3 separate regions of the Homo sapiens genome follow, and regions 2 and 3 are each reported to be linked to region 1. The links are microRNA targets in miRTarBase. Many come from high-throughput screens and were not tested one by one. Region 1 holds a microRNA gene; each other region holds the end of a gene's coding sequence.

Region 1 (3,163 bases):
ATGTTGGTTAGGCTGGTCCCGAACTCCCGACCTCAGGTGATCCACCCGCCTCGGCCTCCCAAGTAGCTGGGATTACAGGTATGAGCCACTGCGCCTGGTAATTTTTTGTATTTTTAGTAGAGACGGGGTTTCACCATGTTGGCCAGGATGGTCTCGATCTCTTGACCTTGTGATTCGCCCACCTTGGCCTCCCAAAGTGCTGGGATTACACGTGTGAGCCACTGCACCCAGCCCCGACCTCTTAATACTATCATACTGGCCACACCTGAATTTTGGAGGGGACACAATCAAACCATAGCACCACCTTTACTGACTTGTGTCTAACTTAAATTCTTCTTGTACATTGTAAAGTACTTAATAATCCAATTGGCGTGAGTTACTTTATTCTTATTTCACCACATCCATTATACTTGGGAGGCTAGGTGACTGCTTAGCCCAGTGAAATACACACTGTCAGAACTCTTTATTCCTCATCTAATGATAATATTCTGATTGGGCTTGGTTTCCTCCCAGGGTGGACAGTGTTTCCCAGTTATGTTAGTCCCCATTTCAGGCCCCTGCTGGTGACTGAACAAGACCATTGGCTGATTTGCTCTCAAGTCAACCACTGGTGATTCCTGTAAAAGTACATGGCAACAATGGAAATACCATTGCTGTCTCAGAGGAAGGGATGGACTTGTGCCTGTGGGTCTTCCTATGACCCTACTGTTCAGCCATGTGTTCTCACTGGGCCCAAATGTCAATTGCCTTTGTGGGAACCAAACCCCAGACCTCACAAATGGACAATTAATGGAGCTCAGTCAATTAAGTAACTGGGCCTTTTTGCTGGTCCTGGCCATGCTTTCAGCCATTCAAAGAACATCATTAAATTTAAAATAACATAGCAATTCTTAGTATTAAAGTCTACAACCTTGAGAGATATCAGAGCATGGGTTGAAAATAGCATGCAACAAGACCTCGCTCTCCCTTCTCTTCCCCCTCAATCTACAATAAGGTTTTCTGGAGCCACCCATAATTCAAGGTGGTGGCAGGGACCTCATTACTCTCATTTCCTGCCACAAAAATCCCCCATGGTGAGAGACAGGACATTGTACAGTCTTCTCCACTCAGGCAACAGATTTCTTCCGCTTCTTCCAATCCAGCTCCTATGACAATTGGCTGGGGTGGCTGAGGCTGTGGGGCTGGAGTCAAATCCAAAATGAAAGACCAGCACCAATTCCTCCTACCACCCAAGCCCAGGTCCTGAGGATGCAGCTTCATACACCACGGCTTGTGTGAAGACTCTGGGGACTTTTGACATAGTTGTTCGGTGGCAGGCAGGCTAAGCAATCCTCTGTGTATATTTGATAGCACCCTCTTTCCCATCACAGCGCATGTAACACAAAACACTCACATGCAAGCTCCTCTCACAGGCATGCCAATTCAGGCACACTAGCTGTGAGGCCACTCCTCTCTTTCCCACTCAAAAAAAACCCATAGTGGATTAGCCGGGCATGGTGGTGCATGCCTGTGGTCCCAGCTACTCGGGAGGCTGAGGCAGGAGGATTAGTTGAACCCAGGAGGTGGAGGCTACAGTGAGCTGAAATTGATTGCATCACTGTACTCCAGCCTGGGCGACAGAGTGAGAGCCTGTCTCAAAAAAAAAACAAAGCACAGTAGGATGCAAGGGAGTAAGTGGTGAGTGATTTATGATAGGGATAATCCTGAATCCACTGGAATTCCCTGCTCCTCTCCTCTCCTCCCCTCCCCTCCCTTCCTCCATTCCTTCCTTCCTTCCTTCCACTGGAATTCCCTCCCTCCCTCCTCCCTTCCTTCCTTCCTTTTTATTTCTTTCTCTCTTTCTCTCTTTATTTACTTTCTTTTTCTTTCCTTTCCTTTCTCTCTCTCTTTTTTTTTTTTTGTGAGACAGGGTGTTGCTCTGTCACCCAGCCTGCAGTAGTGCAGTGGCTCGATCAGGGTTCACCGCAGCCTCAACTTCCCAGGCTCAAGTAATCTTCCCACTTTAGGCCACCCACCGACCAAGTAGCTGAGACTACAGGTGTGCGCCACAGCACCAGTTAATTTTTTCTTTTTTGAGATGGAGTTTTGCTCTGGTTGCCCAGGCTGGAGTGCAAAGGCGAGATCTCAGCTCACTGCAACCTCTGCCTCCTGGGTTCAAGCGATTCTCCTGCCTCAGCCTCCTGAGTAGCTGGGATTACAGGCATGCGCCACCATGCCTGGCTAATTTTGTCTTTTTACTAGAGACGGGGTTTCTCCATGTTGGTCAGGCTGGTCTCGAACTCTTGATCTGAGGTGATCCACCTGCCTTGGCCCCCGAAAGTGTTGGAATTACAGGCGTTAGCCACCGCGCCCGGCCACTAGTTAATTTTTTTTAAATTTCAGTAGAGATGAGGTCTCACTATGTTGTTCAGCCTCGAATTTTGTTTCTCAAAGTGAAACACAATTATGAGTAATAAAGGACCCAGAATCCCTTCACAGCCATAACAGCATGCTTGACAACTGCTGCTGCCTAGCTTGGGGGTTTCCAGCCTTGAGGTTGAGCCTACCCTAGGCTTAGCAGGAGGCCAGAGCTGAGCTGAGAACAGAGCCCAGGATGATTATCACTCCTAATCCATGAGGTACCAAGATGTGGTTCTGTGTGACACCTTGAGATGGCTGAGTACTCTCAGTCCCTATTTATTCTTAGCAAAGCAAACCACAAGCCTGCAAGCTGCTTGATGACTTAGGGCATCAGTGTTCAGAAGGTCTCTATGGGGACTGATGTCCTGAGGTGACTAGACGCTTCCAGACATCAGTGCCCGTGGCACCCAGATGACACTTCTCGCGAGGCTCCCGTTTTTCTGCAGACTAGGCTGTCTCTTCATAACAGAGCCTAGTTTCCATCAAAATGCCCTGACTTCTCGAGAGGACAAGTGCTAATCTTTTTTATTTTTTCCATGCCCACGGCCGGTCAGAGAAGACCTATCTCTACCTACCATGCTCCAGATAGCCTTACCCTTGAGCCAGATTTGTCTAAGATGGTGATGGTGATAACAAACACATCTCGGGTGTACTGATGGACAGGAAGTCAGGAGAGACAATGACTTGCTGCCCTGCTATGCTAATTTGTTGGCCAATTCATAGGAGGTGGCAGCTGAAGTTGTAATGATAACTTAGAGGGCAG
Region 2 (3,163 bases), not on the chromosome of region 1:
GCCTCCAATACATAGGCCTGGGTTTTTTCTGCTGCAAACAAAAGACTCGACTTCGAGCCATGGGAAAAGGGAACCTCGAAGTCAACAGAAACAAATCCTCCCATCATGAAACAAACTCTGCCTACATGTTATCTCCAAAGCCACAGAAGAAATTTGTGGACCAGGCTTGTGGCCCAAGTCATTCAAAAGAAAGTATGGTGAGTCCCAAGATCTCTGCTGGACATCAACACTGTGGTCAGAGCAGCTCGACCCCCATCAACACTCGGATTGAACCTTACTACAGCATCTATAACAGCAGCCCTTCCCAGGAGGAGAGCAGCCCATGTAACTTACAGCCAGTAAACTCTTTTGGATTTGCCAATTCATATATTGCCATGCATTATCACACCACTAATGACTTAGTGCAGGAATATGACAGCACTTCAGCCAAGCAGATTCCAGTCCCCTCCGTTTAAAGTCATGGAGGCTATAGGATCTTATGTAAACAGTTTTTGTTTCTGATAGTAATGGACTTTATTCTAACTTGAGATCAGTGGCGGATCAAAACCTACAAGATTCAACTGAAAAGTTGGCAGTTATGGTTTTCTTTCATCTGATGTGTCAGTATCTGTTGATTTGCTTTGTAGTTTGTTGACATCTTAAGATTTGATGTGAAAGTTTTAGATTTTTTACCCTGCTCTTTGCCTCAGTCTTTTGTACCGAGCCTTTAAATAGATGCCAGGAATGAAGCTACTGTGTTAAAGTAGAAAGTCAACCGATTATCATGATTTGAGTCAGTGTTATGTGACTTCAAAATAAGGTATTGACTGGATTTTTTTTAAAGAATGTGAAAATATGATTTTTGCTGAGGTGTTATTTTTATTAATTGAATTGTAAATTTTGATTTTTTGAAGTGTTGAAATCGGGAACACTACACCTTGTTGGTAGCAGGTTGATTTGAATAAATAATATATTGTTAGCTGGGTGCAGTGGCATGCACCTGTAGTCCTAGCTACTTGGGAGGCTGAGGCAGGAGGATCACTTGAGCCCGGGATTATGAGTCCAGCCTGGGCAACACAGCAAGACCCTGTCTCTAAAGGAAATGTATATATTCTTTTTTTTTTTTTTTTTTTTTTTTTTTTTTTGAGACGGAGTTTCACTCTTGTTGCCCAGGCTGGAGTGCAATGGCATGACCTCGGCTCACCGCAACCTCCACCTCCCGGGTTCAAGTGATTCTCCTGTCTCAGCCTCCCAAGTAGCTGGGATTACAGGCGCATGCCACCATGCCCGGCTAATTTTTGTATTTTTATTAGAGACAGGGTTTCTCTGTGTTGGTCAGGCTGGTCTTCAACTCCTGACCTTAGGTGATCCGCCTGCCTCGGCCTCCCAAAGTGCTGGGATTACAGGCATGAGCCACTGTGCTTAGCCAGAAATATATATATTCTTAAGGCAGAAAAGGTGATAACTCTGTCTTTACCAAAAACACTCACACAGGTATTAGGTACTTTTCTTTCATAGGACAGTCAACTAAGAATATAGTATTATGATTATTGCCATTTCTTATTATAGACATGTTTTATGTCAGTTGAGTAGGTTTACAATTCTTTTGAAAAGAAATATATTTGGGCCGGGCATGGTGGCTCACACCTGTAATCCCAGCACTTTGGGAGGCTGAGGCGGGTGGATCACCTGAGGGTCAGGAGTTCGAGACCAGCCTGGCCAACATGATGAAACCCCGTCTCTACTAAAAACACAAAAATTAGCAAGGCATGGTGGCAAGCACCTGTAATCCCAGCTACTCGGGAGGTTGAGGCAAGAGAATCGCTTGAACCTGGGAGACAGGTTGCAGTGAGCTGAGATCGTGCCATTGCACTCCAGCCTGGGTGACAAGAGCGAGATGTCATCTCAAAAAAATGAAAAAAAGAGAAAGAAAGAAAGAAAAGAAATATATTTTTGCTTGTTAAAAGTGAATTATTTATTTATTTATTTTTTTCCTGAGAGGGAGTCTTGCTCTGTTGCCCAGGCTGGAGTGCAGTGGCATGATCTCTGCTCACTGCAACCTGCGCCTCCCGGGCTCAAGTGATTCTCCTGCCTCAGCCTCCTGAGTAGCTGGGATTACAGGCGTGTGCCACCATGCCCAGCTCATTTTTGTATTTTTTAGTAGAGACAGGTCTTGAACTTGTCTTGAACTCCTGACCTCAGGTGATCTGCCTGCCTCGGCCTCCCGAAGTGCTGGGATTACAGGCATGAGCCACCCCAACTGGCCCAAAAGTGAATTGTTTCTGAATGATCTTATTCAAGAAGCCTAGTGAAGAGGACTGCATCTATGGTAGAGGTGCACTGTTCCCAGGAGAGAAGGCACTGCGGTAATCATCTCGGTGTTCTGTGGAAAACAGTGTGGACTCCTGTCATGCATTGGGCAATATTTATTATTGCTTAACAAGGTTTACAGATAAGACTGGGAATGTTTTGATTTATGTTTTCCTTCTGTGTGAGAAGAGTTTACTAACCACCTGACAGTATTCAAGTAACTATTTAGAAATGACTTCTTTTTTGTCTTTATTTATTATTATGGTAGAAAAATTCTCAAGATAATCTATTTTCAAACTAATCATTTTATTTCTCTCCCATTAATCTTAAAGTGGAAATGGGCAGAAAGAAAAAATAGATTTAAGTATTTCTATACCTGAAACTAATTTTACTATATGCTCTGAGATTCCTAGCATAACAACTGTGAACTCATATTTTATTGTAAAAATATTTTCAGTATACAGTTAGTATTTGAACTCACTAGGTTTTTAAATGTTAGACACACAAGATGAGCATCAATATACAACACCTATCTTTATAAATTGTTATATTCAAGAGTTATTATTGCAGATTGGAAGGTACTTTGTTCCTTTGCGTAAAAGTCTTTTTTTTTTTTTGTAGAAACAGAGTCTTACTCTGTCACCCAGGCTAAAGTGCAGTGGCATGATCTCAGATCGCTGCAACCTCCGCTTCCCGGGTTCAAGCGATTGTCTTGCCTCAGCCTCCAGAGTAGCTGGGATTACAGGTGCCCGCCACCACTCCTGGCTAATTTTTGTATTTTTGGTAGAGACAGGGTTTCACCATGATAGCCAGGCTGGTCTTGAATTCCTGGCCTCAAGTAATCCACCCACCTCGGCCTCCCAAAGTGCTAGGA
Region 3 (3,163 bases), not on the chromosome of region 1:
TCTGGCCAGTCTCTTAGCCACGGCCGACACGGGTCTGGTTCAGGGCAGTCTTCCAGCTACGGCCAACATGGGTCTGGCTCAGGACAGTCCTCTGGTTATAGTCAGCATGGAAGTGGCTCAGGGCAAGATGGGTATTCTTATTGCAAAGGAGGAAGTAACCATGATGGGGGAAGTTCTGGCTCATATTTTCTCAGTTTTCCTAGTAGCACTTCACCCTATGAATATGTCCAAGAGCAGAGGTGCTACTTTTATCAGTGAATAATAAACATAAATGCAATTTACTCAAGTAGCAATTTAAGAAATAGGAAAGTCATCTATGAATTCATCATGAAAGACAAGCAATCCATCATGAAATTCGTTCTAAAAGTGAATCAATGCATTTCTGTCTCTTTCTTTAGAGCCTAAAACTGTAGCATATATCTTGTTATGGGGTTCCTTCCAAAGACTGTTAGGCATTTGTGCTACTTTGTTAGAAAATACTGAGTGGAATAACTTGTTAGAATGAGGGTTAAACTTTGAGGAATAATGAAAAGCTTTTAAAGAGCTTTGGGTTTAGTTGGAGTTGTCTTTTTGAGAGCTCATCATTCATTTATAGATGGTGCCAAAGCTAACCTTACATTTCTTAGAAGCAAAATATTACAAATGCATTACCAGTCCTAGATACAAAGCTTTGTTTTACAGCAATTAGTGTACCCTAATTTTTAGTGTGCCCCAAGTTTGGTGTGTCCCAATTTTTGGTATTGTGGCAGAAGGTGAAGGCTCTGAAAGCAAAGATGCAGCAGCGGTAGTGTCTTTACTTATCAAAACCATCAAGTCCTTTTTCTTGGGTATATATTTAATCAGTAAGTTAATTAGTGGCATAAAAAAGTAGCATCAGGGTCTTTTCCCAAGCCAGTGAGCAAGAGCATTATTTCATAAAGAATAGGGATTTATCATTTCAGGAAAAAAAAAAACATTCAAATGTGGGCTTTAGCTTGTTTTCAGCAGAAAGATCTTGCTCCCTATTTCTAAGAGGCTGCTCAATATTGGGAAATATATTGAGGAGTTATTCCATGGAAATACAATGCTTTCCACCTACTACTGTAGTTCAATAACGTTTCCACCTGAAAAAATATCATCCATGCCCAGATGAAAAGGAAGAGTATCTGTCACTGCTACATAGTTCCTTAATTTGACTGTAACACATTTGTTTCAAGTCTTTGGATTCAAACAACCGGATTGTATTAAAATTGACAATAAATAAATGTTGATTAAATACTAAGACTTTTCTCATCTGTGCTTCATTTCACTTCTTACATACAGATGGTCATCCTAGAAACCAAACCAAACAGCGATTTCCCAATATTCTATTTTTCACAATGAAGAATAGATAAAGCATTCTTAAAACTCAATAAGACAAACTACTTCATTTTAAAATGATCAAAATTCCATCACACTGGTATTGGCAATGATTTTTTTGATATGACACCAAAATCACACACAATAATGTGGAGCTGTCAGCTCCATACATTTTATTGTCCCTGAAGCCCTTAGAGGGAGACAACATATGGAGGTAGAAGGCGATATTTGTCTTGGTTTAACAAAAACTTTTTAGTGTTAGTTTTAATTTTTAACAAAAAAAGTTTTTTAAAAAAATTTAAAACAGAAAAAAGCCTACAGAATAATGATGTAAAGAAAAAAATATTTGTGTTCAGCTATACAATGTGTTCGTGCTTTAAGCTAGGTGTTAATTAAGAGAGTCAAAAAGTTTAAAAATGTAAAAGTCTATAAACCTAAAAATTTACAGTAAGCTAAAGTTAATTTTTACTGGAGGAAGAAATTCTTTTATAAATTTAGTGTAATTCAAGTGTATAGTGTTTACACACTCTACAGTAGTATACAGTAATGTCCTAGGCCTTCCCATTCACTCACCACTCACTGACTGACACCTACAGCAACTTCTAGTCCTACATGCTCTATTCATGGTAAGTGCCCTATACAAGTGTACCTTTTTTATCTTTTATGCCATATTTTTACTGTACCTTCTTTATGTTTAGATACATTTAGATGCACACTTACCATTGTGTTAGTTGCCTACAGTACTCAGTACAGTAACATGCTGTATAGGTTTGTAGCCTAGGAGCAATAATCTATACCATATAGCCTAGTTGTTTATTGGCTATACCATCTATATTTGTGTAAGTACACTCTCTGATGTTTGCCTAAGGGTGCATTTTTCACAACATATCCCCCATTGTTAAGCAACACGATTGTGTACTTTACTATAGGGCCTAGCAATTCCACTCCCAAGCGAAATGACAACGTATGTCTACATTGAAGATTTTTACATGAATGTTTATAGCAGCTTTAATAATAGCCCCAAACTTGAAACAATCCAAATGTCCACGAACAGATGACTGGATAAACAAATTGTGGTATGGCTATACAATGGAATTCTATTTAGCAAGGAAAAAAAGAATAAACTACTGATACATGTAACACAGATGAATCTCAAAAACACGTTGATCAAAAGAAGCCATCCACAAAAGAGTACATATTTATGATTCCATCTATATGAAACTTACTAAAACAAACCTAATCTATAAAAATAGAAAGTAGATCAGTGGTTGACTAGGGCTGGGAGTAGAACTTGTGAACTGTCTGGAAGAGTCACAAAGGAACACTCTAGGGTGATGGAATAAATCTATATGTAGATTATAATGGTAGTTACATATATATATACTTTTGTCAAAACTTACATAATCGTACATATTATGTGGAAATTATATCTCAATAAAGTTGATTGTTTAAAGGCTTTCTGTGCAACTTGACACACGAATTTTTTTTGTTTTTTGTTTTTTGTTTTTTGTTTTGAGACAGTCTCACTCTGTTGCCCAGGCTGGAGTACAGTGGCACAATATCGGCTCACTGCAACCTCCATCTCGTGGGTGCAAGTGATTCCCCTGCCTCAGTCTCCTGGGATTACAGGCAGGCAGCACCACATCCAGCTAATGTTTGTATTTTTAGTAGGCAGGGTTTCACCATGTTGGCCAGGCTGGTCTCGAACTCCTGACCTCAGGTGATCTGCCCGCCTCGGCCTCCCAAAGTGCTGGCATTATGTGAGCCACCAAGATACAGAAGGGGAGGAGTTTCATCTCATCAGATATCAAAATATATTACAAAG

The links. The annotated mature microRNA hsa-miR-766-3p reads ACUCCAGCCCCACAGCCUCAGC and lies in region 1 at 1,167-1,188, opposite strand. An mRNA with a match to its seed (bases 2 to 7 or 8) in the 3' UTR can be bound and repressed. Matches are read on the target gene's strand: a 7mer-m8 pairs with bases 2 to 8, a 7mer-A1 pairs with bases 2 to 7 and ends in A, and an 8mer does both.
Region 2: the mRNA of GPR75 is a reported target of hsa-miR-766-3p. The part of its 3' UTR that is shown has no 7-base or 8-base seed match.
Region 3: the mRNA of HRNR is a reported target of hsa-miR-766-3p. The part of its 3' UTR that is shown has no 7-base or 8-base seed match.

Annotation. Positions count from the first base shown.
Region 1 is chrX:119,645,597-119,648,759 of GRCh38, forward strand. MIR766 (microRNA 766) reads right to left here and starts at 1,252; the gene lies at 1,142-1,252. The region is part of intron 5 of SEPTIN6 (septin 6); the gene reads right to left. RefSeq lists an enhancer at 2,306-2,485.
Region 2 is chr2:53,850,426-53,853,588 of GRCh38, reverse strand. GPR75 (G protein-coupled receptor 75) reads left to right here. Exons shown (of 2, transcript NM_006794.4): 2 at 1-677. The coding sequence ends at 455. The region is part of intron 1 of GPR75-ASB3 (GPR75-ASB3 readthrough); the gene reads left to right. Among named protein-coding and RNA genes, the nearest start is that of MIR3682, 2.8 kb to the right of the region's middle.
Region 3 is chr1:152,210,171-152,213,333 of GRCh38, reverse strand. It overlaps HRNR (hornerin), which reads left to right. Exons shown (of 3, transcript NM_001009931.3): 3 at 1-1,258. The coding sequence ends at 258. The region is part of intron 1 of CCDST (cervical cancer associated DHX9 suppressive transcript); the gene reads right to left. Among named protein-coding and RNA genes, the nearest start is that of HRNR, 12 kb to the left of the region's middle.